Regions from separate parts of the Homo sapiens genome. Here all the other regions are reported to be linked to region 1. The links are microRNA targets in miRTarBase. Many come from high-throughput screens and were not tested one by one. Region 1 holds a microRNA gene; each other region holds the end of a gene's coding sequence.
Evidence for each region. Region 1 holds the annotated microRNA hsa-miR-466 (AUACACAUACACGCAACACACAU, at 4,098-4,120, opposite strand). A microRNA usually pairs through its seed, bases 2 to 8, with sites in the 3' UTR of a target mRNA and lowers its output. Matches are read on the target gene's strand: a 7mer-m8 pairs with bases 2 to 8, a 7mer-A1 pairs with bases 2 to 7 and ends in A, and an 8mer does both.

Region 2: miRTarBase lists ZDHHC17 as a target of hsa-miR-466. Seed matches in the 3' UTR shown: 7mer-m8 at 1,463-1,469, 7mer-m8 at 2,732-2,738 and 8mer at 3,516-3,523.
Region 3: miRTarBase lists COPS8 as a target of hsa-miR-466. The part of its 3' UTR that is shown has no 7-base or 8-base seed match.
Region 4: miRTarBase lists MUC15 as a target of hsa-miR-466. Seed matches in the 3' UTR shown: 7mer-A1 at 4,617-4,623.
Region 5: the mRNA of SPRING1 is a reported target of hsa-miR-466. Seed matches in the 3' UTR shown: 7mer-A1 at 4,969-4,975.

The regions. Positions count from the first base shown.
Region 1 is chr3:31,157,617-31,163,919 of GRCh38, forward strand. MIR466 (microRNA 466) reads right to left here and starts at 4,171; the gene lies at 4,088-4,171.
Region 2 is chr12:76,849,628-76,855,930 of GRCh38, forward strand. It overlaps ZDHHC17 (zDHHC palmitoyltransferase 17), which reads left to right. Exons shown (of 17, transcript NM_015336.4): 17 at 1,220-4,069. The coding sequence ends at 1,358. Among named protein-coding and RNA genes, the nearest start is that of CSRP2, 26 kb to the right of the region's middle.
Region 3 is chr2:237,097,254-237,103,556 of GRCh38, forward strand. It overlaps COPS8 (COP9 signalosome subunit 8), which reads left to right. Exons shown (of 8, transcript NM_006710.5): 8 at 410-3,221. The coding sequence ends at 489. Among named protein-coding and RNA genes, the nearest start is that of COPS8, 15 kb to the left of the region's middle.
Region 4 is chr11:26,555,218-26,561,520 of GRCh38, forward strand. MUC15 (mucin 15, cell surface associated) reads right to left here. Exons shown (of 5, transcript NM_001135091.2): 5 at 3,815-6,008. The coding sequence ends at 5,848. It overlaps ANO3 (anoctamin 3), which reads left to right. Exons shown (of 27, transcript NM_031418.4): 14 at 4,502-4,562. Among named protein-coding and RNA genes, the nearest start is that of MUC15, 14 kb to the right of the region's middle.
Region 5 is chr12:116,712,423-116,718,725 of GRCh38, reverse strand. SPRING1 (SREBF pathway regulator in golgi 1) reads left to right here. Exons shown (of 5, transcript NM_024738.4): 5 at 833-6,303. The coding sequence ends at 916. Among named protein-coding and RNA genes, the nearest start is that of SPRING1, 22 kb to the left of the region's middle. RefSeq lists enhancers at 475-1,004, 1,005-1,534.

The DNA of each region.
Region 1 (6,303 bases):
CTTGCTGAAGATCACACAAGTATCAGAGCAGGTAAATAAATAAACTATAGTGGCCTAACTCAAGAGTCCAGTTTTTAAACCATTCATGAGAGGAGTTATCATATATCTCAATCTGGGCCCTGTTAACCTGTCTAGGGATAGTTCAAAAATTACATTAAAATTATTGTATGTATATATATTTTGCTAGGAAGGGGATCCATAGGTTTCCTAAGATTCTCAAAAGAATCCCTGGCACAAAGTGCATAAAAAGAAGAAGAAACAATCCTGCTATGTGACTGTCATTCCTAGGGACTATAAAGCAACTTCCAGAAATCTTTCTTGAGAGGCATTGAAGGTTATAGAAATTTGGAACATTTTTTGTTATCATAATATGCTCATTTAAAACTCATCACCTCTATGACATCTTCTCTGTATTATTTAAACTTCCTTCCAACAAGGTGAGAGCACGGTGCTGGCAGGGCAAGTGGTGACCCATCCAGAGAACTGTGAGTGTCAACAGTCCCTCCAGTCCAGGGGTTCAGGTGAACAGCTGAGCATACAAGTTTAGGAAAACAAGCTCACCTTCAACAAAGCATGTAAATAAAAATAATTCAAGCCTGATCCATAAGGATTTCCCTCAGGTAACGAAGTCCTTCAGGCTGAAGCTCAGTCATTTCCAGGGAGGGCTGAGTCACATTTAGATTCTTCCAGGTACAAGTTTCCTCAGTTGAGGTGGTTGGATTCGCCAGGCCTGGATATTTGCAAAATGCCCTGCTTGCCTTGATTAATGACTTTCTCCATAAAGCCAGTCTTGGTGATGACATGACAAAGCTCCTCTGTCCCTGTGTGTTAATAGTACAGAGAGACCATTAACTGCTGGCAAGTATCCCAAAATTGCTCTGAAGATGTAGAGGAATTCTAATGAAATGTAAAGCATTCATCAGAAAGGAGCATAATAGATTTTTCAAAGCTCATGCTCAGTACTTCCACTTAACAAATGCAATACCATCCCTCTTTAGGAAATACACGCATTTCCCATGGAAGAAAGAAAAATATTTCAAATGGTCCTCTTCATTTTTCTGTATTTTCTAAATTTTAGGTTATAAACATGTACTAATAGTATTGTTATAAAGGAAAAGAATTCATGGAAAATTTTAAAAATTTTTCTAAAGTCATGCATTCTTGTGGTTCCCAAAAGTGTTTTATTGTCACATAAATAGGGGAAATGCACTCAAATGCAGAGATACTGAATTAGTAACCCTAGTGCTGGGGGTCTAGATTCTCGGCAAGTGGCATCCAGAAGTTCAGTTTATGTCAAGTATTCTTGCTTATAATTGACACAGTTGGTTACCCACCCAATACATTTCATGTCTTTCTTTTAATAGCCCCCAGATATTATTTGAATAGCTACCTCTCTCCATGCATCCCATATTATTTCAGAATAAGCTCAAACTTCCCCCTCACTCCAATAGTGGTCCCTGGTTGGTTTTACTCAAGCATGAGTTCAAGGGTGGGCCTGTGACCTGTGCAAGCCAATCAAGGTTGATTGTAGGACTCTTGCTCAGAAAGCTGGGCCATAAACCCGCTGTACCCTGCCAGCATTGAACAGAAACCGTATTATCCCAATGCCTATGACAGCCATCTTAAAGCCATGAGGGCAACCAGACTTAGGAGGAAAATGACACCGTGAGAGCCATAGAAGGGAGATGGAAAGAAACTAAATCCATAGTGCTACCCTCAAACTGCTGGATCAACCAATCATGGACGCGTTATTGCCTCTGCATGCTCAGGTTCCTAAAGTAATAAATCTCTTTCACTGAAAAGGTCAATTGAAATTAAATTTTCTGTTCCTTGCAACAGGATATCCTAGCTCATATGCAACTCCTTACAGTTATTGGTTTCAGTTGCAACACAGTGTATCAGCTGATTTAATTCAGTCCAGCATTTTTTTTTTTTTTTTGGCATACCAAGATTGGACTTTAGCCATCCTCATGGCAATCAAGTAATGTTTACCTATTAAAAAAAATAACTGATGCCGTATACTTCAGGACTTTCTTCCCATCAATGATTATGACCATAACCAACATTCCTCTATAACAAGACTCTGGTTTCAGTGTTTCATACCTCCATAGATGTCTCAGAATCAGCCCCATCCTGCCTTGAGGTCTCTAGTTCTGTCTCGTTACTTCTGACCTGGACCTTGACTCCTTGCACAACTGTTTTAAACTGACCCTCTATTGGGATAGTCTATGTTATTTTTCAGTTCACTTTTACCCCAGATGTTGACTTTCAGATATGCTTAGCTTTCTTATCCATCTGCCATGATCTAGCCCAACCTGTCACAATGCCAGGATGCACAAACCCTGGAGTGCATCCAGAGAATTGGGCAGTCTGAACTGGAGATGCTGGAGATACAATAAATAAGCATCAATCTCTATAAGTAAAATGAGAACATTGGACTTAAGATTACTCTGAAATGTCTTCAATTTATAAGATGTAAGAGGCTAGAGACATAGCCCTTACTCTTGAGGTATTAACAAGCCCACTACTCAGTAGGATGCTGATAATTAGAGGACTCAGTAATCAACATTTTCAAATAGCACTTTTCTGTGTAACAACTGAATAGTGTTGAATCTACTCCACAATTGTTAGAAATAGGACACATATTACTTAGCATTTTCAGCTTTATTTTTCAGAATGTAGGACATATTTTAATAATACAAAAAATGTTCTAATATAGAAAATGCCATAATATCACTATCTTGGTTAATCCCCACAGTAGCCTCACCACCAACAGGGAACATTCTTTGCATATCATAAAAGACTACTGGAGATTTATCCATTTTCTACCTCTGTGGCCACATACCTTACTTACTATACCTGTCTCAAATCCTACACTCCAACCTAACCAGATCACCAACAGTCCCTGGAAGTCACAATTTTGTCTTTATCTTTTCTTTTTCTCTAACCAGAATACTTATACCCAACTTCTTCATCCAGTGGGTATACTCATCATTCAAGACCCAGCTAAATTCTTTCCTCCTCACATACGCCTTCTCTGATCTTCTGAAAGTTGTGGCCGCACCTTCTATGTAGAAGACAGACAGTGAAAGAAAGATTTCAGAAAAGAGCTGCAAGCCATTTGAAGCCTGGAAATTGCACCAGTGATGCTTCTTAGTGAATGCTTTAGGCTTTAACCAGCCAGATCTACAACTTCTCCTTTGCAACGGAGCCAGGAAGCAGAATGGAAGAATGGACAAAAAGGTAGATGCTCCTCCCTGCAGTGTATTACCAAATTAGAATTCAGGCAGAAGTTCCCTCTCCAACATACAGTACCTAAAAAAATTTTGTATTGTACATGTGCATATAATGGATCGCAGAAGTCTGTGTTGTTCAAGTATAGTTGAACAAGTCTGTGGGCCCCTAACTCAAACATTAGGTTTATGACAGTAAGAACAATAACCTCTCCATAGCACAGGGCCTGCTATAACATAAGCACTCAATTAATATTTTTTCTTAATAAAAGTGAATGAAGGACCAAATAAAAAATAGTCTTTACATCGAATAAAAGAATACCAAGTGCTAGTGAGAATGTGGAACAAAGGGAACTCTGATCATTAGTGAGTGTCAATTGGCACAATCACATTGGAAAACTATTTGGTAGCTCTTCCTATAACTAAATGTAAAACCATGTCCCAGTAATTCTACTCCTGAGTATATACCCTAAATAAATGAGTACATATGTCCACCAGAAGACTTTGACAAGAATGTTCATAGAAGCTTCATTCAAAATAGACAAAAATTAGAAACAACCCAATTGTTCATCAACAATAAAGTGGATAAACAATGGTATATTATGGGTAGCAGAATACTACTCAGCAAGAAAAAGGATAAATGATTGCTAAATAGAACAACATAGATAAATTTTAGAAGTACAATAAAGAGCAAAAAAGACCAGACCTAAAGGAAGACATAAGGTATGATGATTCCATTTGTGAATTATGACCGTGAATATCAATACGAAGTTAAAAAACAGACTGAGAATAGGCAAGGCTGTGGTGTTGTAAATGTTCTGTATCTTGATCTAGGTGCCATTACGTGGGTGTGTGCATGTATATATGTGTGTTGCGTGTATGTGTATGTGTACATATATACACACATATACACACATGCAACACACATATACACACACATACAAATATACACATATAAAAGTTCATAAAGTTGTACATTTAAAGTTTTGTATACTTAATACATATGTTATACATATATGCAAATTTTTAACAACTTGAAGGGATTTCAGATTCATTTCATTTTCTGGTTGAACTTGAGAGAACACAGTGAGAAACTGCATCAGAGTCAAAAGTTCAGAATTAGAAGCAACACTTTCCTTATTTTACAAATGAGAACACAGAGCCCAAAGACATTAACTTAACCAGTGACCACTTTTCTTGTTAGTCACAGAGCTAAGCCAATATGTTTTCATTACCCCATGCCTTCCAGTACACACACACACACACACACACACACACTCACAAAACAAACTGTGGGCATGAATGTGGAATGGAGAGATGGCAGGGAAGCCTGTAGAAACAAAAGGGGTTTTCTCTAAATCTCATCCTCCTCATTGCCCCTTCCCCATTTCTCCTTCCTTTTCCTTTCCTTAATTCCAGGCATTGTTGACTTCTCTCATCTTCCCTGGTGCTTATTCTGCCTTTCTCTACAATTACCCATCCCAACCAAACACAACTCTATCTTAGTGGATCTCAGGGCGGTCCTCAGATGATAGAAATGGAAAAGTAGATAAGCACAAGTCATGTTTCTTTAAGATATATTTAATACAGTTGTACACTTATTTACATCACATCTCATTTCCAAAAGGTCAGCTTGGAAAAATCCATATATTACAAGATGGTAAATACTGAGGAAATTGCTGTAGGAAATATCAGAATTGGAGGAATAAGATGACTTGAGTAAAATGCTTAGGGTAGGGAGATTTTTTTCATGCTTCTACAACTCTAATATCAAAGTCAGGAACTGCTGCTGTACCTACCTCCCCAGTGGAATTTCCTTTGCAGAGGATCCTGAAAAGGAAGATTCTGATCCAGAGACCTCCTTTCTTTCTTTCTTTCTTTCTTTTTTTTTTTTTTGAGATGGAGTCTCGCTCTTGTTGCCCAGGCTGGAGTGCAATGGCGCAATCTCAGCTCACTACAACCTCTGCCTCCTGGGTTCAAGCAATTCTCTGCCTCAGCCTCCCAAGTAGCTGGGATTACAGGCTCCCCCCACCACACCCGGCTAATTGTTATATTTTTAGTAGAGATGGGGTTTCAACATCTTGGCCAGGCTGATCTTGAACTCCTGACCTCGTGATCCACCCGCCTCAGCCTCCCAAAGTGCTGGGATTACAGGCATGAGCCACCACACCCACCCAAGACCTCCTTATTTTACAATGAATTAGAGGAAATAAAGGCCTTATTTTAGTTGGCCCTGAATATAAACCTAAGAAATATGAAATTATGCCTGCCATCTAAATTACCTAGCTGCTTCCAAGGTGCTGTTGAGTTGTAAACAAATTAAAGAGAAAGCATAATTTGATCAGAGACATGTTACAAAGGACTCCTCCCTCCACACTAGCTCAGAAGCCTCAGGACACGAGCACTAGATTCAACCATGCCAATCAAATTGCCATGTGGTGGGCCTCTACTATGTTTACAAAATGATGCACGGAATAAAACATATATTAAAATTGGGTTGTGGGAAATAAACCACCATTCCAAATGTCGACAACACAGAAGCCAGGAAATACACATTTCAAGTATTCTCTTTTTATTGCTCATTCATCCAAGTTTCACATGTAAAACCAACATCCTAGAAACCAACCAAAGAGTTTAAAATGCTACTTGCTACTAATGCAAGAATGGGGTCATTAATTCCTGTCTATTATCTCTTACTGTTGTCTGAGGAACCTCAGATAATACACCTTAACTTAGTTAAATGAAAATTAAGGTCTGAGTTTTTGTTTTTCATTATGAAAAACAGAATGGAAAACAAAAGATATTTGAAGACTATAAAAATCCTTGAATGGTACAAATATTTAAAAATTCTAAGTAGTCGTTAAAAGAATTCATGGCCCAGTAGAGGAGAGTGGGTTCAGGGTGTGGACAAAATGAATCCTTAGAGTTCTTTCCAGCCGGTAGCTACTTCCACACAATTATGATTCCTAATTAGTCCATGACCCAATCTTTAGATTTGCACATCTGATCTCCTAATTTAAAATTACATTTGTAAATGTTTATATTTTTATTATCTTAGTGGTTAAAACCT
Region 2 (6,303 bases), not on the chromosome of region 1:
TCATCACATTAACTGTATATAATAAAGTTGTGATATCTCCTTATATTTTTTTCTTTTTAATTTTAAATTTGTATTCAGTCTGGTGCTTAGAAATAGTAGGGTCCTAAGTATATGAAATATTTAAAACTTTGAGTTTTACTGAAGTTATTACCAACTCTTCAGCTTTTGTGGTGCTGTCAATTATGGCATACTTCTGGAAAGCAAGCAGACCTTTAAATAAAAACAGAGTTAGTTGGGTAGTTTTGAGAATTCTCCCATAGGTACAAAAATTATATAAGGCACAAAACTGACTGCTTTTCTTTTCTTTTTTTTAGACAGAGTCTTGCTCTGTCACCCAGGCTGGAGTGCAGTGGCATGATCTCGGCTCACTGCTACCTCCACCTCCTGGGTTTAAGCACTTCTCTGCCTCAGCCTCCTGAGTAGCTGGGATTACAGGCATGCACCACGCCCAGCTAGTTTTTGTATTTTTAGTAGAGATGGGGTTTCACCATCTTGGCCAGGCTGGTCCTGAACTCCTGACCTCATGATCCACCCGCCTCGGCCTCCCAAAGTGCTAGGATTACTTACCGACGTGAACCACTGGTGCGCACCTGGCCAAAACTGACTGCTTTTCTAAAGGTGTTACTGGAGTACTAAAATTTCATGAACTTATCCTTGACATTTCTTTTTTAAGTTGTTATCCTTAGGTTCACTGCCAGATTCATGCTATTTATAATTATTTTGTCTTTTACTTTTTTTCTGTTTTAGAGATAGTTTGTCTCCTGCCAAAGAGCCACTAATTAAAGGTTTTTATCAAAAATTACATATGGAGCCAGGCATGTTGGTGCATGTCTGTAGTCCTAGCTACTTGGGAGGCTGAGGTGAGAGGATTGCTTGAGCCCAGAGTTCGAGGCCAGGCCGGGCAACATAGTTAAGACCTCATCTCTAAAAATAAAAATAAAAATGCATATAACACAGAAAGTATATGCACATTTGAATAAATTTAAAATATAATTGTGTAAGTCTTTAAATTGGCAAAAGAAAAAATCATTGTTGGCAGAGCAGTGGAGAAACATGAAGGCATATATATTTTATAGAGTTATGAATTGGTTCCTTCTTGCAAGTAACCTGAGTTTTTAAGTTTAGAAAAAAATATATTTAACACGAAAATTATATTGAATTCATGTATTAAATCATTTGTACTGACTGACGTGTTTTCTTTTTGGGGTGCTGTTTTTAGCCATGGATGTGTAAGAAATATTATAGACTTCTTTGAATTTCGATGCTGTGGCCTCTTTCGTCCTGTTATCGTGGACTGGACCAGGCAGTATACAATAGAATATGACCAAATATCAGGATCTGGGTACCAGCTGGTGTAGCGACATCTTATCCTATGAAGCATATTGCTGAGTGGTGCCTGAAAATTGTGTCTGTCCGTGTCTTTCTCACACTCGAATCCACATCCTTTGAACAAGAGCATGCTATGTGTAGGGCTAATGGTGAATTTTACAGTCTTTTTTTCAACACTTTTATTAACAAAAGTAAACATGGACAGAACACACTGCCATTTCTGGGAAGAGTAAAGATGATAAAAAATAATTTTAATGGTTCTTAATGTGGAAATTCACAACATACTCAACTTTTGGGTTTTGTTCTCACAGTATTTTTCACAAAAAAAGGGTAAACTTATTCTATTGACAGACATGGTGTACTGATCAGAAATGTTCAGTTTTAACTAAAACTAAATTTATGTTATTTGGCTAAATGTTATGATGCAGTCTAGTACGAGTATTGCATCTAATTCCAGGAGCATTGTTTTAAGTTGATTGACTAGTTATTATGTACATTTCAGAATGTACACATAAATACTGTGATGAAAATCATGTGATTGGGATCTACTGTGATGTTGTCTTCAAAGGCAGGAGAAAATAATGTTCACAATAAAATGTGCTAACAATGTTTTGTTTCTATCAGCTGTTGCAATGCTGATATATTTCTAGTTCAGTGAAATAATTTGTAGTAACCTTACTCTGAGGTTTTACGGTCTGATAATGAAGCACTTGCATGAGTATAGTAAGTCATGTTTTTTTGTTCAAATTTAAAAGCCCTGCTAATTGCATGACACACCACATAGAATGTATACTAGCAGATACTATCCAGTGAAGCATAAATTAGAATTTAATTTGATGTTCAAAAACAGTTCCATTTTTAAGGGTTAAGGTGGTATTTTCAAGAAAAGGCAGAACAAATAATGCAAAATTCTCAGTAATAGTGATACATGGATATACTTCCTTTTAAATTCTCAGCTGCAAAATAATTGTAGACAAAATAATGGCATTTAACTAAAGATGGAGCATGATCTAAGTACATAGCACATGTGAATAAAAGAAAAGCTGACAGTATATTCTGGTTTCAATAAAATGACCTATCAGAAAGTAGAATTTCATCCCCAAGAGTATTTCAGTTTATCCAATATTGAGTAAGTTCTGAAACAGTTTTAGAAAAAATTTTCTTTTTGTTAAATGTGATGCACTGATCAATTTTTGTCACAGCATTTTCATACCTTCATGGTGGACTACTAGTCACTGCTTCCATAAATATTGTTTACAGGGTGAGATTTGGTTTATTCATCTTAAGTGCTGTAGCAAACTGTGGTTCGAGCAACCTGTGGGAAATCTGTGAGAGGGAATGGGGTGGGAGATGTGGGGGAATGGTGGTCAGACTGATGACAGATCCTAGACCAATGTAAAGAATGTGTATCTGTATATAAATAATTTATCAAATAGTTTTCTCTTTGTGTCTGTGTTAGTGTTTTTAAAGCTGCTCATTTCATTTTGTCCAACCAAAAAGAAAAGGGAGATAACTAATGAGCTTCTAGTGATGTTCAAAATTGCTGTTAATAGGCATTATACCCTGCAAGTTCACTGCATGTCTGATGCTTGGTAAAACTAGTCTTCCCTGTAAAATGCAGATTACAGGTATTAAAGCAATCTAGTGGTATACCCGCCCCTTGCCTTAGTAAGAGGAGCAGTGAAATGTATATAGTTGATGTTCAGTATTTCCAAGTACCATTTTTATATAGTAGCTTATTTGACCATAAGTCACACATCAAAAAAAGATTACCCTTAGTGTATGTGTTTTAATATTAGAAAATTGGCATATGTACTTTATTTTTGAAAAGGGAAGAGATGGGTGTGGGGTGGCAATAGCATTGTGCCATTTTGTCATAGAATGTAAAAATTGGTTAACTTTACAAATGTCAGCTAGTTTTGACTACTAATTGGGGGAAATTTTAGATAATTTTTAAATTCAAAGTTATTTATAAAATGCTAGAATTTGTTTTAATTTTTTGTATTTTGAGCCACTTCACATGAAGACTCAGTTGCATTTTTATCGAATACATTTTTATCAACAGTTAAAGACTATGGTGGTTTTTTCAGAGTTTGGCTAAGAATGTTGTTACCATCTTCTTTGTTTGTGGTACAATATTTTCAGTGCAAAAGAGATGTCATTCAGTTAAAAAGACAAACCTCTAGATGTGTAATTACATGGAAAATACTAGCAATGTGAATGCTTTTGTAGTAACCATCTTGTAGTACCTGTGAAATCTATAACTCAGAAATGGTCAGATGGTCAGGAGCCAGCTATGCAGCAGTATACCATCTGTTTAATTATTTTGTAGGTCCTGTGTGTGGAACCAACTATAAACCCAGTTCTAAAGTTGTGTATGATGGTGAACCTTTGGGAATAGTTCTTATCAACTTAATTGGATACTTTTAGCAAATAGGAACTTAATTCTCAGCACTGAACATGAATTACTTCCTTGGAGTTTTTTTTCATTCATATTTTTGTTGTTTCCAGGAATTTATTTGATATTAATGGGCGTAAAACAGCATCATTGTACTTAAGCTATGGATGTTTTTATTTTATATTTTCTTTATTTATAACTGTGCCAAGTATTATTTTGCTACTTACCGTGTTATTCTGTGGAAAGAAAAACCTGTAAAGTGTTTAATAAATTAGCCCTCCTTACATAAATTAAATGTCAAAATTTTGTAAAATATTAATCAGAATAAATACTGACTCTTAAGTGTGTGCTTATGATTTCACTCAATTTACTTCAGGAAATTGATGAAATGATAGTGGTACCTATGATATGAAAAGATTATACATTTATATCCTGGTTAACTAGGAGTCAAGTGGCATAAGACTGTAGGAATTTGGAAAAATAAAAGATGGTGTTAGTATTCTAAAAAAAAAAAAAAATTTCCAATCCTGTGTGTATGCATGTGTGTGTGTGTGTAATTTTTTTTTAAATAAAGATAATAAATTTTTTAAGAATTTTTGAATTCCATGTAGTTAATTAGGATCCTCAGGGACTGTATGAATCTCCAAGTTTTAAATATGTCTAAAGATACTAAAGAAAAATATTGCAAAATGTACTATATAAAGAAAAATACTGCAGAATGAAACCTACCAAACGTTGATCTCAGTTACTTGAGAAGATATGCGTGGCAGAGAGAACTTCTTTATTTGGGACTTTAAAAGGCAAAAATTATTAAGGAACTGTTTCCTGTTGTTCCAGTGGTTGTTAATGGTTTGAGAACCCAGTGGTATTAAACAGGAATATTTTCAAATTGGACTAATACTCTATCCATAATTTTAGTCTGGAGTTCAAGTAACAATATCTTGAACAACTGTATAAAGTAAAGCCGCTAGTTTTCATTCCACCCAAGTATTTTCCTCCTCATTGTCTACTTTTTATCTCTCCTAGTCCTTGCTAGATTGATGTATCATACCTGATATGGATGTCTGAGTCTAGGAGTTTTTAGACATAATTGGAAACAAGTGGTATATACCAGGACAGAAAATCTTAACATCTTGTCAGAAAGTAAAGTGCTTGTTATCAGAGTTTTCTATTAAATATATTTATGTGACTTAAAATAGAAAAAGTAGATTGAGCATTCAGAATATTCTTTGGTCTGTGTCAGCTAAGTCAGAAACTCAAGGAAACCAGGTATGCCTCTTAGAAAACTCTTGCCTTTGAATTGGATATGAATGTTTTACCCAGGTAAATTTTTGCTAAAACTGTCACTCATTTACTAGGACTGACAAATATTTTTAATAGATGGCAATGTTTTTAGATTGTTTCCATTCAAAGCATCAGAAAGTCCCATTGTTGCTGCTGCTGCTTGGATCTGTAGGTTTACAGTTTTCATCAAAATTTGGAAGATTTTCAGTTACTCTTTCTTCAATTATTTTTCCTCCCCTCCTTTCAGGAAACTCCCATTTCACATGTGTTAGGCCACTTGAGATTGTCTTCCAACTCATTGATCGATCCTCCATTGGCTTTTAAGATTCTTTTTCCCAGTGTTTGTTTTAGATAGTTTGTCTTTAAGTTGACTATTGTTGTTTTTTTTTTTTTTTTTTTGCAATGTGTAGTCAATATCATTCAGTTTATTTTCATCTCATTTTGTTTTCACCTACAATGTTTGATTTGGACCTTTTAAAGTATCTTCAATATCTTAACTTTTTGAAAACATGTAGTTCTAATAACTGTTTTAATGTCCTTACCTGCTAACGTTTACATTTGCCAGTTCTGAGTTAGTTTTGATATTTTTTTCCTCATTCTTGCGTGCCTGGTAATTTTTTATTGGATGCCAAACACTATGAATTGGGTGCCTGATATTTTTGTGTTTCTATAAACTCTTGAGCTTTATTCAGGATGCAGTTAAGTTACTTGGAAACTTTGATCCTTTGAGGTCTTGCTTTTAAGATTTGTTAGGCAAGACCAAAGCATTGCTCTTACCTCAGTAAGAGCCTTCTCTGTACTCTATCCAAAACCGCAAGGAGTCATGTTTCCCAGTCTTGGTGGTGGAACAGGCACTATTCCTATTCCATGTGCGCACCAGACACTGTTTGCTCCACGTCTTTTGGATGGCTCTTTCCCTGGCCTTAGTCACCTAACATGCATGTTCTATCAGAATTCAGCTGAAGACGTGCATGGTGGGGTAGTGTTCTGTATAATCCTAAAGTTTGCTCTCTCTAATCCTCTCCAGTCCTGCAAACTCTAGCCACCTGGATCTCCCTGGACTCTTAGCTCTGTCTTAACTTATGGTGGCTTCTAGCTCTACCTGTGTTCTTCTTCTTTGTACTACAGCCTAGAAGCTCAAAGCAGTAAGCTTTGGTAGTTGCTAAGACTGATCTCATTTTTCCCCCCATAAATTGCCTTTGTTGCCTATAATGTGCAGTGTCTTGAACATTTTTTCATGTAATTTGTCTTGTTTACAGTAAGACAATAAATCTGGTCCCTGTTACTACATT
Region 3 (6,303 bases), not on the chromosome of region 1:
ACAATTTAATATTCTTCAGTGATGTCTGGGGCATGGGAAGCACTCTATTTCTTGAATTTAATGTTGCATGGGTAAGGATGTTTTCAAGAAGAGCTGTGATCTTTTAAAAGACATGTTGCATGATAAAAGTGTCTTTAACCTTTACATAGAATACTTCAGTAACAACAACATGAGACATGCCTTTACTAGCAGTTAGGTAAAACCATACTCATAAAAGTTGCAACTTCTTGGCTTGCTTTTCAAAAATGTCCAAGCCTCTATGATGTAAGATTTTGTCTAAAACCAGGACAAATCTAAGAAAGTTAACTTACTGTTAAAAATTGAAGGCATTAGGGGAGGTAGGTGTTGGGGCCAAAGCTTTGTTACTGTGGTATGTAACATGAAGTGTGTTTGTTTCTTTAACATACAGAGCCTGCTCCAGTTCCCCCAATACCCAATGAACAGCAGTTAGCCAGACTGACGGATTATGTGGCTTTCCTTGAAAACTGATTTATCACTCTGAGTTCAAGATTCATCTTCAGAATCCTGTATACTGACAAACGTAGAAATGTAAAGTTTGTATTTTCAATTTATTGGATGGCTTAAGCACCTCAGCATTCCTTACTATGTGATAAAATACATATAGAATATAAGATATACTATATACATTTTGTCCATAAACGTTATGCTGAATAGTTGTTGAAACAGTTCTCATTTTGTAGTATTTAATAATCTGGATGGAGCCTGTCAGTATTACAGTTAGTTTTCTAGTGACTCATAAAATAAGATTTCCTGTTTCATGTAGAATAGTGTTTGTCAACTGTCTTTTCTCTGTCCCAGCACATGCCGTACTCTTATATGTACCATTGGTTGATAATTATAATGATTCATTTGGACTTGAAGAAAGATTGTCCCCAGGCACAGTATCTGAATCACTGGGGATTATGATTCACCCTCTTTGGAGAACATGCTCTCTTTTCACCCCCCACCTCCTGAGAGCCACTAATGTAAGATACAGAAACATAGCTGAGGAACAAATAGACCATTTCCATACTAAACCAGTTTGTTAACTTTAGATTTTTTCCAATAGTGTGAGTATATCCATTGCTGGCAGTGGAGGGCTTGCCATGAAAATGCAACTTATTTAAGACATTTATGAGACATATTAACTTGTGCTGTCGCCTTTTAGAAGGAGAAACTTAAGTGTGGAATGCATTATATGGGCAAAGAAGCTATGAAGATACATGATACACTTTGTACAACTATCCTGCAGCCCATTGGTTGCTTATATTTATCGCTTGGCTCAAGTTCTGCCCTTTGGAGAAATACTGAGCAAGTCTTTCATTCTCTGTGTGACAGCCCTCTGAATATTTGAAGTTGTTTGTTGTAACTTAAGGTTATAACAGCCCTTAGTTCATTTACTCTGCATTTGTTCAATAAATATTTAACTGAATTCTTCAATTATTTCATCTAAGATAGTTTCTGGAAATTTCACTCTCGATCTTTCTGTGGACACAATCTATTTTGTCATTGTGTCTATATGAATCTCTTAAGTAGAAATGAGTTGTATGGTGAATCTGTGTAGTGATAATTATATAATTTATTTATTTTGAATGCATTTTAGTGGCTATTTCAGTTTTTCTTAACATATATGGGAATACTTTTTGAATTGCAATTTTATTTAACCCGGATAGGTAAGTCATATTAAAATTCCTTGTTTTACAGTTGAGGAAATGGGAATTCAAGAAGTCAGAGGATCAGGAGAGTGATCAAGAGAATGACAGTGCCAGTTTTTTTAACTTCCAGGTATTAAGTACAAATTGTATCCATGGTTATTTTTTAAAAGCAGATTAGAGTCAATCCAAATATTCATTAATAGGGGATTGTTTGAATAAACAGCAGTGTAGACTACGCAGGTGTAAAAGGAGTGAAGATCTCTATACTAAACTGGAATGATCTCCAGAGTGAGAACATAGAAAGCACATGTAGTTTATATGGTTATTTTGAGGGTAACAAAAGGAGAATGATTACAATTATATATATGTACATATTTCCTTATATTTCAAAACTAAGCAATTGGGGGATATATACAAAATGAATATAATAGTTCCCTAAAGAGGAAGGAGAGGACAGTGAACTACTACATAGAGAAAAAATAATCTCAAGTGATCAAACACAATATTTCAATTTTACATTGTCAGTGGGATATACACTAAGGACAGAAAAAAATCTTAGACTAATGAATGTGGTTTTTCATGATTAATTTCACAAAATCTTGATATCTTTTTTATTATTAAAAGTATAGATTAAATTAATAATCATGTAACATTAGACCCCAGTAATCTTAAATTTGACATGGAAACCTCATTATATGCTTTATTTTTCTTTGTAAACAGTAAATATTTCCCACTCCTGTCTACATGAAAAGGTCTAGAGTAATTACAGTTCAGTAACAATGAGCACCACTAGTACCCAGATGGTGTTCTTTCATTTTCATTTGCAATTAAAAGGAATCAGAACTTATTTGCAAAACAGCTAATAGTTCCAGGGCAGTAAGTGTACAAGTTCATATCTGGTACAAGATGTCCAGGATTCAAGGAGGCTCTTAAAGACTTGGGATTCTGTCAAAGGGTTATACAAGCCAACTTGAAGGGATTTCTACAGGCCATGTAAAAATGAGACAGTTTGAGCATGAAATATTTGTATATGTGTCTGTTTTTAACTCTTAATAACCTCATCACTGTACAAGAAAGGCAGGGTAAGTGCTTGATTTCACTTCCCTTTATTATCAGTTCTCAGGACAAATTGATATGCTGCCAATCTCTAAAGCAACAAAATCGAACCTGTAGGGTAGTCAAAAAGCTCATGCTGGAAAATTCCACCGAATAAAGATAAAAGTTAGAAAAACGGTACTTGCAGCCCTTAATGAAACAAAGAAGGGATCATGGAAATATATATCAATGCTGTTGAGACCACAGGGTAAGAAATTGAGATTGAGCATGAAATATGTCCAGTACATCCATCAGCCTGTCTTTGTGCTCTGGCTATTTCTGAGCCAGCCATCTGTGTACAAGTGTAGCCTGACAGCACCCTGTTTCAGATCCATTGGATATCTCTAAAATTTGCTCTGGGACTTACCCTGGCACTACTATCAGGATGCCCACACAAACCTGATTGGGCAGCCCATCAGCAGTTGTGAACATGACATGGTGAATAAACACTCTCTTCCTTGTCTCAGGGCAGACTATTTCCAATGTGTTCTATACCTAGATCCTCAAAAAGAACCCCCAAAAAATTGAGCTGTGGTGTCCCATGGTCATAAGCTCTCTAATGCAGCCTTCAATTGTTTTTTCCTCATTCCTTGTTTTACTTTTCCTGGTTCCCTGTCTCTTGTTCCCGGAGATCAATAGAAGTGATCTGTCTACATATCTTTACATACCTATGCTATTCTGCCTTGGGGCGGGGATCGGGGACCTAGTCAAATCAAAGGGAAGTGTGTAACACATGAATCAGACTGAAAGCACCTGAATTTAATTTTATATATATAAGTATATATATATATGTGTATATATATATATATATATATATAATACGTATATGCATATATATAGTATATAAATATATACATATATACATGTACATATATATATATTTAAAGGTTTAGATCTGCTACTTTACATAAAATGTGAGAATTAATGGAACAAGTTAAACATCCCACTAAGAAACAGCCAGTTCCAGAATGTGGGAAATTTAACAGGATTAGTGAGTTTGCTTGAAAAATAAATGACAAAAAGTCAGGGGGTGGTAGTAAGTATGAAAATGTCTGTTCCTGGGTTGAAGTACCTTGAGGCCAACTCAGAATTGTGTCAATAACTAATAGGTGAATACCCACATTTATCCCTTGAGAGGCATCAGCCCCTAAATCAATGAGGAATGTGGAGCTAAGATTTGAGAGTACTGCAATGAGGTCATCTGCAGCAGCTCTTTGCAGGGTCGGTGGCAGGTGTTTGCTGATTCCACAGGGCACAGCAAGATTCAAGCTTTGCCTGGTGAGGGGCCTGCTGCTGAATAACCTAACAACCTGTGGAATTTGGGCACTTTGAAAGGGCTGGGGTGATAACAATGGAGACTTGAGAGGGCTAAACCACACTGTTTACCCTTCAAAACATTTGGTGAACTTTTAAGCTGCCTAGGGTAGGAGACCAAAAAGCAAGTCAAAAACCTTTGAGAAACAGTTCCGTTTTCCTGGAGTTTTGCTATGTCAGCGCTCCATTAAACAAGGTTGTTGGGTGGGGGAAGGTGTTTGCTTATAAATATAAACCAGAAGTAGAATATTAGTAAAACTGCTCCTGGAAGACAGGTCAATATAAAATATTAAGCTGAAGTACAGAAATGAAACAGTGGAACTTAACTGGCAATTGTGTTGGAGACATGTGGTACACAGCATAGCGATCTACCATTTATCTAATTGGAATCCAAGGAAGAGCGAGAATATAGAGTGGAAAAATAGAAGTACCAGCCCAGAATTTTCTGAAAGTGATGAAAGAAATCAATCCACAGATTCAAAAAGCTCAGAAAACCCCCACAGAGGATAAATGCAAAGAAAACCACACCCAGACAACAGTAGTAAAACTACTGAAAACCAGAGACAAAGAGAATATATTAAAAGCACAGAGGGAGGACCCGGGGGGACATTATCTTCAAAGAAGTAGTGGTAAAGCCAGACAGTGAAATGGCATTTTTAACATGTTGAAAGAAAAATAAAATCCTAACTGCTATATACAAAAGATCCTCTTTTAATATTTCTGTGTTCTTACATTTAAAAGTTGGAAAAAGATATACCATTGCAAATACTAACCAAAAGAAAGTTGGTGCACCTTTGATAGTAAGAGTTGGCCCTCCATATCTGTGGGTTCTACATCTGTGATTCAATCAACTGTGGCTCAAAAATATTTGAAATTTTTCTAAAAAAATACAGCATAACAATTATACATTGCATTGTATTAGGTATTAAATCTAAAGTATACGAGAGAATGTGTATAGGTTATTTGCAAATACTATGTTATATAAAGGACTCTGATCTACAGATTTTGTATACTTGGCAGTCTTGAAGCCAAGTATATCCCCTGTGAATATCGAAGGGTGATTGTATTAGGCAAAGTAGACCTCAAGGCAAGAAGCATTATTAGAGATAGAAAGTAATTTTTAATGAAAAAGATTGCATATAGTTTCCTTCTGTAACAAATTACTGCAAACTTAATGGCTTAAAACAACACAGATGTATTATCTTACAGTTCTGCAGTCCACAAATCTGAAATGGGTCTCACTGGGCTTATGTCAATAGGGCTGCATATTTTTCTGTAGGCTCTAGGGGACAAGCTGTTACCTTGCCCTTTCCAGCTTCTAGAGGCCGCCCGCATTTCTTGGCTCATGCCCCTCTTTCTCCACCTTCAAAGCCAGCAACATTGGGTAGAGTTATTTTCACACTGCTCGATCTCTGGTTCTCTCTTCTGCCTCCTTTTTTCCACTTTGAAGGACCCTTGTAATTATATTGGGCCCACCTGGAAACTCAGGATACTCAGTCTATTTTGAGGTGAGCTGATTAGCAATCTAGTTCTGTCTGCTATCTTAATTTCCTTTTCCCATATAACCTGAGATTCTACGGATTCAAATATAGACATTTTTGGATGTCCGTTATTCTACAGAGATCAGTCCAAAAGGCAACAGGAATATGTAGCAATTCTAATTTTATATTCAAAATATAATCAAGTGGAAGTTTACCGAACTAAAAGGAGAAAAGAGTCATCTATAATCATACTGGAAGACATAATACACCTCTCATTAGCTGATGGCATGAACAGACAATATCACAAAGAACATAGCAAAGGTGACAGACTTGATCTAATTGGGATACATAAAACACTAACCAACAATGACAAAATATAATTTCATTTTATGCTGTATAAACCATTTACCAAAATTGAACACATAAAGGACCATAAAGCCCTAATACATTACAAAGAGTAGAAATCAAAATGAGTGCATTCTCTGAAAACAGTGGGATTAAGCTAGAAATCAATAAAGCCATAGAGATTACTAGGAAATCTCTAACTGCTTAGGAATTATGTAGTTGTCTGGGCATAGTGGCTCACACCTGTAATCCCAGCACTTTGTGAGGCTGAGGCAGGAAGATCGCTCGAGCCCAGGAATTCAAGACCATCCTGGGCAACATAGACCCCTGTCTCTACAAAAGTATAATTTTAAAAAGTCAGCTGGGCATGGTGGTGCATGTCTGTGGTCCTTGCTACTTGAGAGGCTGAGGCA
Region 4 (6,303 bases), not on the chromosome of region 1:
GCATTTTCTCATCACTTTTGGCAAGAACCAAGTGTGTTAAGAGTTATTAGATGTATACACATATGTCTCTCTCCTAGCCTATGATTTTAGACATAAAACAGCCTAGGAATGCCAAAAAAATCCAGATACTTCTTCTTTCACTTGGACATATCTAATAACACACATTGGCATTATTTTAACACTGAAGACAAGAAATATCCACATATGGCAGAGTGATAAAGTAAGGAAGCCGTCCAAGGAAACACTACATCTAGGTTGCTTTTGTCATCATGCAGTAAATACATCTCTTCTTTTCTGAACAGAGAAAGGTACATTTAAGGACAGGGATGACTCACAAAGAATTCACTTAATAACATGTATAAGGAAGGTGGAAAAGTTAGCTTGCAAAGGAGAATATTGCCTTATGGAAGAATACAAGAAATACAACCCACTAGGATGAAATGTCTTTTATTTGTTCCTCTGACTAAGATAAAATGTAGCTACTTGTTTTATACTTTAAAAATAAGAGTTCCTCTTCCCTTATTGGATGGAAATCAACAGTCTATTTTACTATATATTTTTGAATTTAAATAGCTAATAATTTATTGATGGGTAGAATCAGATATAAGGGAGCAGATTTTTGCCAAAGGTACAAGCCAACCAATCTAGGATCATCTAGAAACAAAATCATCTGGACACATGATCTAGGGACTTCTCAATTCAGTTCCTTACAGAATCCATTACTGCTTGTGACAAAGAAAAATAAATTAAATTTTCCATATTATATTGAAAAGGCCATGTGTGTACATATAATTATTCCCTTTATAATTTCAGTGATATGTTTGCATGGAAAATAACTGGTCCTATCATATGATAAAAATTAATATTTAAGTACATTAATGTTTCCTTTCATGACTACTTTTATTTTAGTACTTAAAAGTATTGGAATTAGGATATTTTTGCAATTAAGTAATTTAGTGATATTTGCACACATTTAAATGCACTGACACTACATTATCAAACCCTGTGATGCTAGGAATTCTCATTTAAGGTGAAATAATTAGATAGAGGTCCTAAATTGTTTTTCATATAATTGAAAAATGACTCAACCCCTTGAAGTTAAGTCTTACTCATAATAATTTTCTCTTTAAAAAAAAACTTGTTTAACAAACATGTACTCAATACCCAGTATGAACCTCAGACTGTATACTGATTTGAGGTTACAACAGAAGTAGGAGAGAAGCTGTTCTTTTCAAGAAACTTCATGAAAAAAAAAAAGGAGTCTGTATAAGACTGTACATCAGATCATCTAGAACATTTGTTAAAAAAGCAGATTTCTGGACCCCGTATCCTGAAATTTAGAATCAATTGGTCAAGGGTGAGGCCTCAAACTCTCTATGTTAACAAGTTCCTCAGGTGACTCTAATTTCTAGGACCAAATTTTTTAAAAGATACGTGGAGAATAGTCTAATCAAGACTGCATTTTTTATGTAGCTTCTGCCCAGGTCCAGCAAATAAAATGGTTATTCAGGTTTTACCCTGCCCAAGAGGTAAGGAATGAGGAAGTGAAAGGGAGTGACCTTCAGCTTCAATTCTGACTCCCTGCCCTCCAAGTCTCCAGTAATAGCTCTGCATACATGGTTGAATCTGCCAAGGAGGCACCTTGTTCTCCTTATCCTGGAGAGACTTTAGTGGGATATAAGTGGCATTTTTCAGAGCCTTATGTTTTTCTGAACCTATAAAGCAACTTTAGAACAAGACCCAGCAGGTATCATGGAGAAAACATAGACTTTCAGCTTCCAACCTAATCAGATATATATCTCTTTAACAGTACCCACATTTTTTGATTTGTAGTCACACTCAGTTCTTCAAGAGAAATCAGGTGTCAAAGAAAATGGACAATTTGTACTTAAATCAAGCTTTTAGGCTAAGTTTGCTACCTTCTTTATATATTATGCCTAGTCATCTTAACAATGTTGAACAAGCCAGGCGCGGTGGCTCACACCAGTAATCCCAGCACTTTGGGAGGCCGAGGCGGGCGGATCACGAGCTCAGGAGATCGAGACCATCCTGGCTAAGACAGTGAAACCCTGTCTCTACTAAAAATACAAAAAATTAGCCGGGCGTGGTGGCGGGCGCCTGTAGTCCCAGCTACTCGGGAGGCTGAGGCAGGAGAATGGCGTGAACCCAGGAAACAGAGCTTACAGTGAGCCGAGATCACACCACTGCTCTCCAGCCTGGGCAACAGAGCGAGACTCTGTCTCAAAAAAAAAAAAAAAAAGTTGAACAAAATGCTTGCCATGGGTCCCTCTATTCATAAAGGCAAGCTGTTTTTCTAATAAAATAATTTAATGTATTACATATTTAATTATATGTGTAGGACAAGATTCTTTTTGCTTTTAGAAAAATCTGCTATGCTGCTTATGGAATTTTCTCAATATTTCATCTGGAGTTTCTTCAGTATAACAAGTGCTCTTGTCCTATTAGACAGAAGGCCAGTTATCACTTAATTCTTCTGTCAATCACCCATGATCTAAGCTTGAGCCATTCACAGTAAGCTTGACTCTTCCTTCATTCTTTTTCCCATTTTCATTCAGCAGCTCATATGTCAGCACCCTAAATAAAGCCCTGAACATCTCAAGCTATAACCACAGACCTCGAACTGTTCTTGTTGTCTCTATGATCTCCCACGTCATAATACATCCCATGTGTAATAGCTTGGTAAATCTAACACATGATTAAACACTGTCGTACTCTTCCTTAGAGCAAGTTCTGAAGTCTTCTCTAATGCTCCTTCTAGCTTTATCTCCCATTAGATGTATATAATCCCACATTACAAGAATATTACATGTACTCCAACTTTATCTCAGGAAGATGTTCCTAAACTATTAATGTTTAAATTTATTGACTTAAAATGCCTGAAAGATTTGTTAGCAAACCTAGTAAGAAAAAAAATGAGAAGCACTTTAAAGGAAAATACTACACAAACTATGATAAGTTCATGCAACACAATTGCTACTAAGGATGGCTTTTTATTTGCCACTTTTCTAAAAGCATGGTTATTTCTAGAGCGGGGAAGGGCCATTATTTCTTGGTGACCTTTAAATCCCCATGTGTAAAGTCTGTTCTAACACTCTAAGAGACTGTTTCCTGTATGATGTTGGTTTACAAAGGAAAACAGACAGCTGTTCAGCTGTTCAGCAGCCTCAGGTGTCTCTGTGGGACGTCTTGAGAAACAAAAATTCTTGACTCCCTGCTGGGTATAATTTTATGAGCTCTGTGGGAGAATTTCTTTATGATCCTTTTCTCTCCTGATATAAATGTACACTGATGATTGTTTTGAAAACCGATTTTTATATTAATTTTTAGAAATACCGTGCCTTAACCAACAATGAATTTTAGAGCCATATGGGACATTTTGCACCTATCCACCAACCTTCAAAGGGAGCGCATCTTTTCTATGATGATATTATCAATAATGCCACATTATAGGAAAATACATTTTATGATGACTTGCTTTACATATATTTTGCAGTGTGTTCCAGATGTTACAACTGAAATACGTATTACTGTTGTTTTAATGCTCCCATTGAGCACCCTCTGGATGTCAGATTGAACAAGGAGGACACCATTCCATTCCAACTTTCCTTATAATACTGTTCTTTAACCCATGATTGTCCTCACCCTCCTGTGAGGACAATGCCCTATTTTCTCTATCGTTTCTATGGAATTTTTGTGCTGGCCAGACATTTTTTGCCTTCACTGTGTTAGTTTAATTTCTCTCACTAAGTTACATATATACTGAGGGCATTATGCAAATGCAAACAAGCAAAGGTAAATTGAATTTATACTTTATTAAAATCAAACAATACAAGCCTTAAAATTTGATTCAATAACATTATAAAACTATGCATCCTTTATGAAGTTTCAGTTGATATCTGATTAAAAAACACTTTGTTTCATAAGTGTTCAGTGATTTATGAAACTTTTAAAACAAATTAAGATGGGATTTATTACATCTTATAGCCATTATTGGACCCATTCTACATTTTGAAAGACTAAGAGAATAGGGTTAGCTATGGGAAATGCTGGCTCACTGGAAGAATCCTGCATTTTCCAACTTCCCCACTCCTAGAAGTTTTGCTAACAGGAATTGCAACTAGGAATGCCTCACCTGAAAAACTAATTTCATACAACTTTCATTAAGTAGTTTGACAATCTGTGACCCACAAATACTTCCATAGAATGGTAGAATTATTTATAATCAGAAATGATGGTGGGGTATAAAGGGAATCAAGAGAGGAGAGAAGAGGGCTAATGTTGTTTCTTCACCTCTCCCCATGAGAAAAATCATGTGAAATTGTTGCAAGACCCATGAAAGGAATTCATATATAATATTTCTGTACTATAAAATAATATGATTCTATTTGAGAAAAAATCATAGTACCTGAGTGCAAACAGTATTCACTGGCTTATTATAATCAATTTGCATGACTAATATTTCTGTTTGTTTTCTACTCAGGTGACATATTTGTTCGATAATGGAGGGACAGTCTTCTTTGCTATTTTTATGGCAATATGGGGTAAGTACTTTCTTCATTACTTTCTATCCCTTATTTTCTGAAGCTGTTTCTGTGTTACACACACACACACACACACACACACACACACACACACACCATGAATCAATTCAAAAATAAAGCCTCTAGGTTGGTACTTGATTTGTTTGCTCTCTTCATATATTCAGTGCTTCTTTAGGAATTTAACTCTTGATCTCATCCTCTAATCTCTAAAACCTAGACTTTCCTACATCAAGGAACATATTTTTTCTACCAAAGGAAGGTGGTAATTAAAAACAAACTGAAACATACTAGAATCCAAATTAATCTTCTTATATTATTGATTATGAAACTGATGCTCAGTAAAAAGTTGTTTGATATTTCCATTCATCTTTTTTAACCTTATGGTTCATACATTTAGGGATGCAGAATCTATTCCATTATGATTGAGCAATAATGTCTAATACATAAGAAATCCAGTTCCTATCTAACAACTTAAAACTGTACAAATTATGTACAGGTATATTCTTTGGTTAACTTTTTTTTTTTACCATGATTCTCATTGAGTTTTTAAGGCACCCAAATAATTGAAGCCTAAGATATATTAAGACAAGTTAAAATTCCCAAAACCTTTGAAGACTTTTAAAGAAGCTATTACTTTCCTGGGTAGGGTCAGCTTTCCTGCCATGGCCCCGTTGAATGCAGTCATTGTCAGCTTCATAACTCAGTGGGCTGATCATGTGTGTGCTGATCTAGAAAATTATAACGTACTAGAATACAGGTCTGTCATTTCTATTGCCTCAATTTCCCAATAACAGAAACTCTGGGCTATGTCCTCTTTTTAGCTTTAAGTCAAATTTTCTTTAAAAAGCACCCTTTCAATTTTCATTTAAGAAAATGCAATCTTGAATTATGGTACTAGGGCTTCAGGCAGAGCAGTAAAGAGTCATCTTCATTGTTTTAGAATTTTTTGGTGGAATAATTTTTATTATTTAGTTATGAGGCAGGGCTGTAATGGTGAAATCTTTTAGTTTTATCTGATTCCACAAATATTTTCTACTAAGAAAATACTACTAAAATACAAATTAAGGCTACTTAGTAAATGCCTCAGGATGGCCAAAAATTGTAAGAAAGAAAACCTTTGGATGATACATCCTGTCTACATTTCTGCTACTGGTCTCCTGCTTTTATGATTCTCCTTGACAAAATCCACGTGACAGTAATTTTGTGTAACCTTTTGAAAGATGAATTTGTCAAAAGGCTAGGATGTAGATGACACTTGCTGTTTAACGCCTTTTTGCTGTTAGTTCTATACAGAAGTACGAAGTGGAGGTATGTCATCCATAGGAATGCCATCACGTGCATTTTCTTCACTTTCTGGCATGGCTGAATCATTCAAAGTTGGATTGTAGTAGCTAGAATTCCCAAAACTCACATCATAAGGTTCCGGTGCATTGTCTAATCGCAGAACTAAAAAAGTAACAAAATAATACTGTTTCACAGTGATACTCTGAAAGATTCATGTTCAGGCATCCACCAAGTTATAGGAATTATTCTAGATGAGAAAATAAATATATTTTTATATGGGCTTTTTAGATTTTAGTTTTAAAATTTTAAATAAGTAGATGTTTTTCAAGCTTCATTTTTTATAAGACTAAGAGTACAGTTTTACTTCCAAAATTTTACTGTTGATGGACTCAAAGTAAAGGAACTAAAGAAGAGACCAGTATAGTATATCAATACCTTGCATAAAGAAGTGTAGACC
Region 5 (6,303 bases), not on the chromosome of region 1:
GAAGTATTTTCTTTCCTTCACTGATAAAACCCAGGAATTATTTCCAGTCTTCAGTGAAGCTACTATACTTTAGGACTTGGTCTTTTTTACCATAAAAAGATTTCCCAATTGCCATTTGATTTGTTTTGATAAAAGTATCCCAAGAAAGAGAAGACTTGGCTATATGTCTGTTAAATTGGATGAATATTTACAAGTTTGTTGCTTAGCATTGGTCTTGGACTAATTAATGAATTCTAGACTAGCCAAAAACCCAAGTTGCTTGTATGAAAACAAATTGCTGAAAAATTAGCCATCAGGAATGATTGTCTGCTTTAAATCACACTTCCAATTTGCTTAGCCAAATGAGGCTTGCATGGTATTGTAGGATTTGGCTCATGCCCCAAATTTTTAGGTACATAAACTTTATGAAAGCAATTTAAAGTGCATCTCCTTAGTGTCTCTGCAGGGTTCCTTACGGGAACTGAGTGAAGCTCAGGATCAGGTGCAAAACACCCATTGGATCTTAGACTGTTTCAAGTAATTTGAGGAAAAGTAGTTGTCTTGAGTCACCAGGTCACAGCAAAGTTATTTAAAAACTCACTGGTGTACATAAAAAGAAACAGTCCCACAGCGATGTTATGTCTGTGTTCATGCTCTTCATTGGCATTCTGGGTTGAGCATTCTTCTTTGTTCCAGAAAGTGCCCTGGAGCCTTTAGTGACATTTGGAGATGGACTCGGCCAGCCCCCTGCAGGGAGAGTCTGACAGTCCCGATCCACTCTCACTCTTCCGAGAGGGAGGTGTGTGAAGCTGTGCTCGCTCTCACTGCGCTCTTATTTTCCTTTTGCCAACAGAGCGTGCAGCATGAGAACACCTACCGGGACCCCATAGCAAAGTATTGCTATGGAGAAAGCCCGCCCGAGCTCTTCCCCGCTTGACGGGTGCAGCGGACTTGCTCCAGCCTGGGTGAGGAGGCCCCGCTGAAGAACTCGCCTCCTGGGACCCAGCTTCAGCCATCGGGCCAGGCTGCAGGAAGAAGACAAAGGCAGCGTGAGGAAACCTTGGCTTTGACCCCTTCTCGTGTTGTCATCTTTGGCTTCGCTCACCACCCGGGCTTACCAGATGGAACTCTTCTGTAAAGCAGCTTGGCCCCTCCAGCCAGTCCCATTCGGGAAAGATGAAACCGGAGGCCGGGCTCACGGTGGTGGTGGAGTTCTTGGATGACTCAGCCCTGGGACCTGCACAGGGACCTGTGACTTGTGTTCATCGGGGGCCGGTGTCACTTCCAGTTTTGATCCAGGCTCTTTCACTGTAAAATTATTTATTGGATTCCTTTGGAGTAATGGGAACATTCTAATGTTTTATGTAGGAAAATGCCTTGCCATTCTAGTTGAATATGTTCAAGGAAATTATTTTTGTTGTTGTTCTGTGTTCTCGAGTTTCAGGAGTTAAATCATTCTTCCACCCAGATACAACATTTTCTCTTTTAGGACGTGAATATTCTCTCTAGGCAGTTATTTTTGTTTGTATTTCGACAGTATCAAGCATAGGCCCTGAACGTGACCTGTTAGCCATATCCTGACGTGTAAAATTATCTAAAAACTCAGACACTCTTCCATTCTAATCTAACTGCACGATTTCTAACAGTGGGCACCATGTGCCTGCCCTCAGGTTATTTTCCAGTGGTAGTCGAATGTGCTCATATACCCTATGGAGAGCACTGTTTTAGCAGAAATCTAATTTCTCTTCCTGGAGGAATTTGTTCTCATTTCTTTTGCCACTTAAAATTAACTGTGGGCTACTCAGCCAGGGTACAGTGGGAGCCTCAGGAAGGTCAGAGGCAACCTCCTCCCCTGTTCTATCAATAGAAACCCAACGTTGAGGCAATTCCTAAACAGACGCACCTCGTAGCTTGCTGTATGTGTTTATTCTTTATTGCTTTCAGCTTTGGGGCTGTAACAGGTACAAATATTTGGTTTCCCTATGATTTATAGAGAAGAAGAAGAAACCCAGCTTTCTATCAGAGCACTGCAAGAGAAGAGTCTTACACCTGCCCTCAGTGGGAGATGAGAATGGTCATTATGACTTAGAGAATGCTACACGTGTAGGTTGCTGGTGTGTCCTGAATCCACAGGCATAAAGCACTCCCCATTTTTCCTACTGTAATGCAGATTCTCCGGCTCAAGGTCTAGAATATTTGATCCTAAGATCAAGACATCATGCCCTTCGAATAGTACTGCTCTTTGTTTTCAGGAGTCACGTGAACACACAACTCTCCTATATTCCTCACGAACCTCAGGATTGAGCAAGGTCTTTGTAATTTTTTTGGTTCACTTTATTGACCTGGGAGCAAGGTGCTAATTCTGTGGTCAGTATTCAATGTTTTTTTCAGTGGAGCTTTTTCTTTGGGCCATATTTGCCTTCTAATACATTCCTGCAATATGTAGTGGTGATTTCCCTTAGCTTCCTCCTACTACCTCTTATACTCATCTCCCCAAATTATTTGCCTCCCTTAAATAAGTTTTCCTAGAAGGTAAGCTGGTCAGGCAATTTGAAAAATATTAGATCCCAAGAAATCTATTCCGTTTGCATTGGACTTCTCGGATTCCATGTGTTTGCAGCAGGACTACATCGAACTCTGATGTGCCGGATTGTGGCATGTCTGCATGTCTCATCCATCTATTGTTTTTGGTAACTCAGTTTGGAATTTCAGTGTCTGTCTTCCCTGGGTTGACATTGGAATCAGCCTCTCCTTTGAGCTTATTTTAACTCTTGAGCAACATAACATAGATTTAATGTGAACAGTTTATACCAAAGGGCAGCCTGTGCCTGTTTATGGATCCTCTCTGCCTTTGTACTTGAAGAGCGCATTTTACATTTCCAGTCCTTTCACAGACAGGAGCTCCAACCTTACGATGGAGAATTAAACTTGCTTGTATTTCCACTTTGTGGATGAGGAACTATGAGAGGTGGAGTGACTTCCTGGGTCCCCGCTGAGACTTAGTGACAGATCCCAGACAAGAACTTCATCTCTGACTCCAGGTCTAGTCCTCTTCCCCCTGTCTCTTGCCAACTCCAGCCCTGACACCGTGGGCGTCTCCCCTGAGAGCAGATATATTTCAATTGTCCAGGCCAAAAGAGGGGCGAGGCGGCATAAACACCCAAATTAGGTGGAGGATCCAAAAGTCATTTTCATTTGGCTGTGGAATATGTTTTTTGTATTTCAATCAGCTAGGGGTGTGTTCACTGTTTTTGGAAATTCACAGCGCTTGAGCCTCCATAATGAAGCTGGGCTGCAGAGCACCTGGCACGTGCTCCAGGCTCCCAGCTCCCAACCTAGGACCTCTCCCTGCCCTCCACTCTGGTTGGTTTGTGGTTCCCTCGACCGAGGGTTTCTAGAATCAGGGACCTTGTCTAAGTTTTGTTTGCCCAGAGCCCAGCGAAGTGTGTGATACACCTTGGGAGTTTAGGAGATCACAAAAGGGATGAAAACACCTTTAGAAAACATTTCATTGGTGGGGCGTGGTGGCTTATGCCTGTAATCCCAGCACTTTGGAAGGCTGAGGCAGGTGGATCACCTGAAGGCAGGAGTTCAGACCAGCCTGACCAATATGGTGAAACCCCATCTATACTAAAAATACAAAAATTAGCCGGGTGTGGGGGCGTGTGCCTGTTTTTGTGAGACTCTGTCTCAAAAAAAAGAAAAAAATATTGTTAATAAGTGAGTGTTTTCGGCTCAAGGGAATTGAGTCATACGTTGCATCTCCCCCAGTTCTGCATCTTATTTGCTGCGCTTGCTGGAGTTGTAAAGATTGGTCCTAACAGGGAAAGAAGCACACAAGAGACTGTGAAAAGGGCTCTGAGACAAGCAAGGACAAAAGAGGGAGGGAAATACCTTCCACAGGGCCTGGGATCTGGCAATGCTAGAGCCTTTTTTTTTTTTTTTTTTTTTTGCGATGGAGTCTTGCTCTGTTGCTCAGGCTGGAGTGCAATGGCGTGATCTCAGCTCACTGCAACCTCCCCCTCCTGGGTTCAAGCAATTCTCCTGCCTCAGCCTCCTGAGTAGCTGGGATCACAGGCGTACACCACCACACCCAGCTAAGTTTTTGTACTTTTAGTAGAGACGGGGTTTCACCATGTTGGCCAGGCTGGTCACGGACTCCTGACCTCAGATGATCTGCCCGCCTGAGCCTCCGAAAGTGCTGGGATTACAGGCGTGAGCCACTGCGCCCGGCATGGAGCTGCTATTGATGGGTGAGCTCCACAGCTTTTGCAGAAGCAGAGGATATGACTTGAGAGCAGTGCTGTCACCTCTCAGCATGTCCCCAAGCCCAACTGGGGCCTCCTGGAGATGCCTCAGTCGGCACTGGCCCCAAGGGAATCGTGGGGAACAGTTGCACAATTTGCAAGTTTCTGAGTGCAGCTTTTCCCATCCTTGGGATCAGCAGATAAGTTGTAAACACAGGGAGGTACTGCTTATTGGATATACTTTTCATAAGTAGGACAGAATTCTTTTGGGACTCTAGAGTTGGGAACTACCACTTACTAGCGGCGTGGCTGAGGCAGTCTTCCTCCTCTGTGGCTCAGGCCCTTCATCTGTGAAATGGGGTCACAGCATCTGCCTCTCAGGGTCACTGTGAGGTGTCGATGTGAGCAAGGCCTGAGGCTTGGCAAGAAGTCAATGTCTGCAACTCAGCAGGGAGCAATGGCAGGGGCAGTCAGGGGTCGGCTCGGATAGGGGTGGGTGGGCTCCTGAGGTTGGAAGGGTAGGAATTACAGAGCTCTTGTTACTATTGTTGTTACTGTTTTTAAAGATACGATATTTCAGATAATTCAGGAGCACGTAAGGATGAAACTTAGGATAACCTAAAATCACACAACCTAGAGAGAAGCGCATTTTTGTCTTCCCCCATTTTCTAGGCAAAAATGAAAGTACTTTGTCCTCTTGAAAAACAATTCTCTAATGAATATCCTATGTTACATAGAGGCCTGTGTAATGCATTTGTGTGGCCACATGGTGTCAATTTCATGAATATACAATAATATTATTAATTCCCTGCTGAGGACATTAACTGGTTTCCAAGGCTGCTTGTTGTTTTTGCTACTACAAATAATGCATTGATGATAAATACTTTTACATACATGGTTGTATGTTTATCTGAACTATTTTCACCAATATATTCACCTAGTGTGTATGGAAGTGTCCATTTTTGTCATACCCCTGGTAACCCTGTGATATTATTTTTAAACATTTTGCTAATGGATCTCTGTTCTTGTTTGAATGTATTTAATTTCCAGCAGAATGAGCCCCATTCCTTATTTTGATTGGCCATTTATCATGTACATATGGTGAAATGCCTATTCGTGACTTAGCCAATGTTGTTTCTTTTTCTTACTGATTACTACAGTACATTTTTATATGAAAGCAGCCTTTGTCCCCTTCTCTTGTTTTTCAGCCCTGTGTTAGAAACAACTAAGCTCACATATTCACAAACCAACTTTTCCAGTTCATCTAGGGCAGTGGTGCTCAACAGGGGCAATTTTGCCCCCCAGGGAACATTTGGCAATGTCTGGAGACATTTTTGTCACAGGTGGGGAGGAGGGCAGTACTGTGGGCACTCGTGGAGGGAGGCCAGGGATGGTGCCCAACAGCCCCCACGACACAGAATTACCTGGCTGGAAGTGGGAGCCGGGTGGAGGGAGGGAAGCCCTGCTCTGGGGTCATATCTCCCCGTTAGATTGAACAGAGGAGCTCCTGGTAGCTGAGTGCTGACTTCATTATTTTTCCCCGCCCTTGCTTTCTACCCTGCTGAAGTGCTGCTGATTAAATTACCCTGAAATCCCCACAGGACACATTACTTCCTCACAGGTCTCTACTAGCCCAGCGCTGCCTCAAGGAATGGCATTATTCCTTTGCCACTGTGTCCTCACCGCACTCTTGGACTCCGCCGAATGCAGACACCCTCCTGTCTGCAGAAGGATCTGGAGGGGTAGAACGCTTCCCCTCTACGACGGATTGACTCCCCAGCACCTCACCAGCAGTTCTTTGAATGGAGTGGCTTTGGAGGTGGGAGTTGAGGAAGAAATGTGAGCCTGTCATTACAGGTTCTGTTTAGAAAACTAGTCATTCTACTAAAAAGGTATCACATAAGTAAGTAGGAGCAATAAAAACAAAGAAGATAGTGGGACTCCGAGAAGCTTTCCCCGCCTCTGGCCTGTTAGTCTATCGTTCGTTGGGCAAGGCTCTTCCAGTGTGTGACCTTTTGCGTGTTATCACAGCATGAGTGCAGTTTTGTGTACAGGCATCCCTATATTCAGCATGTAT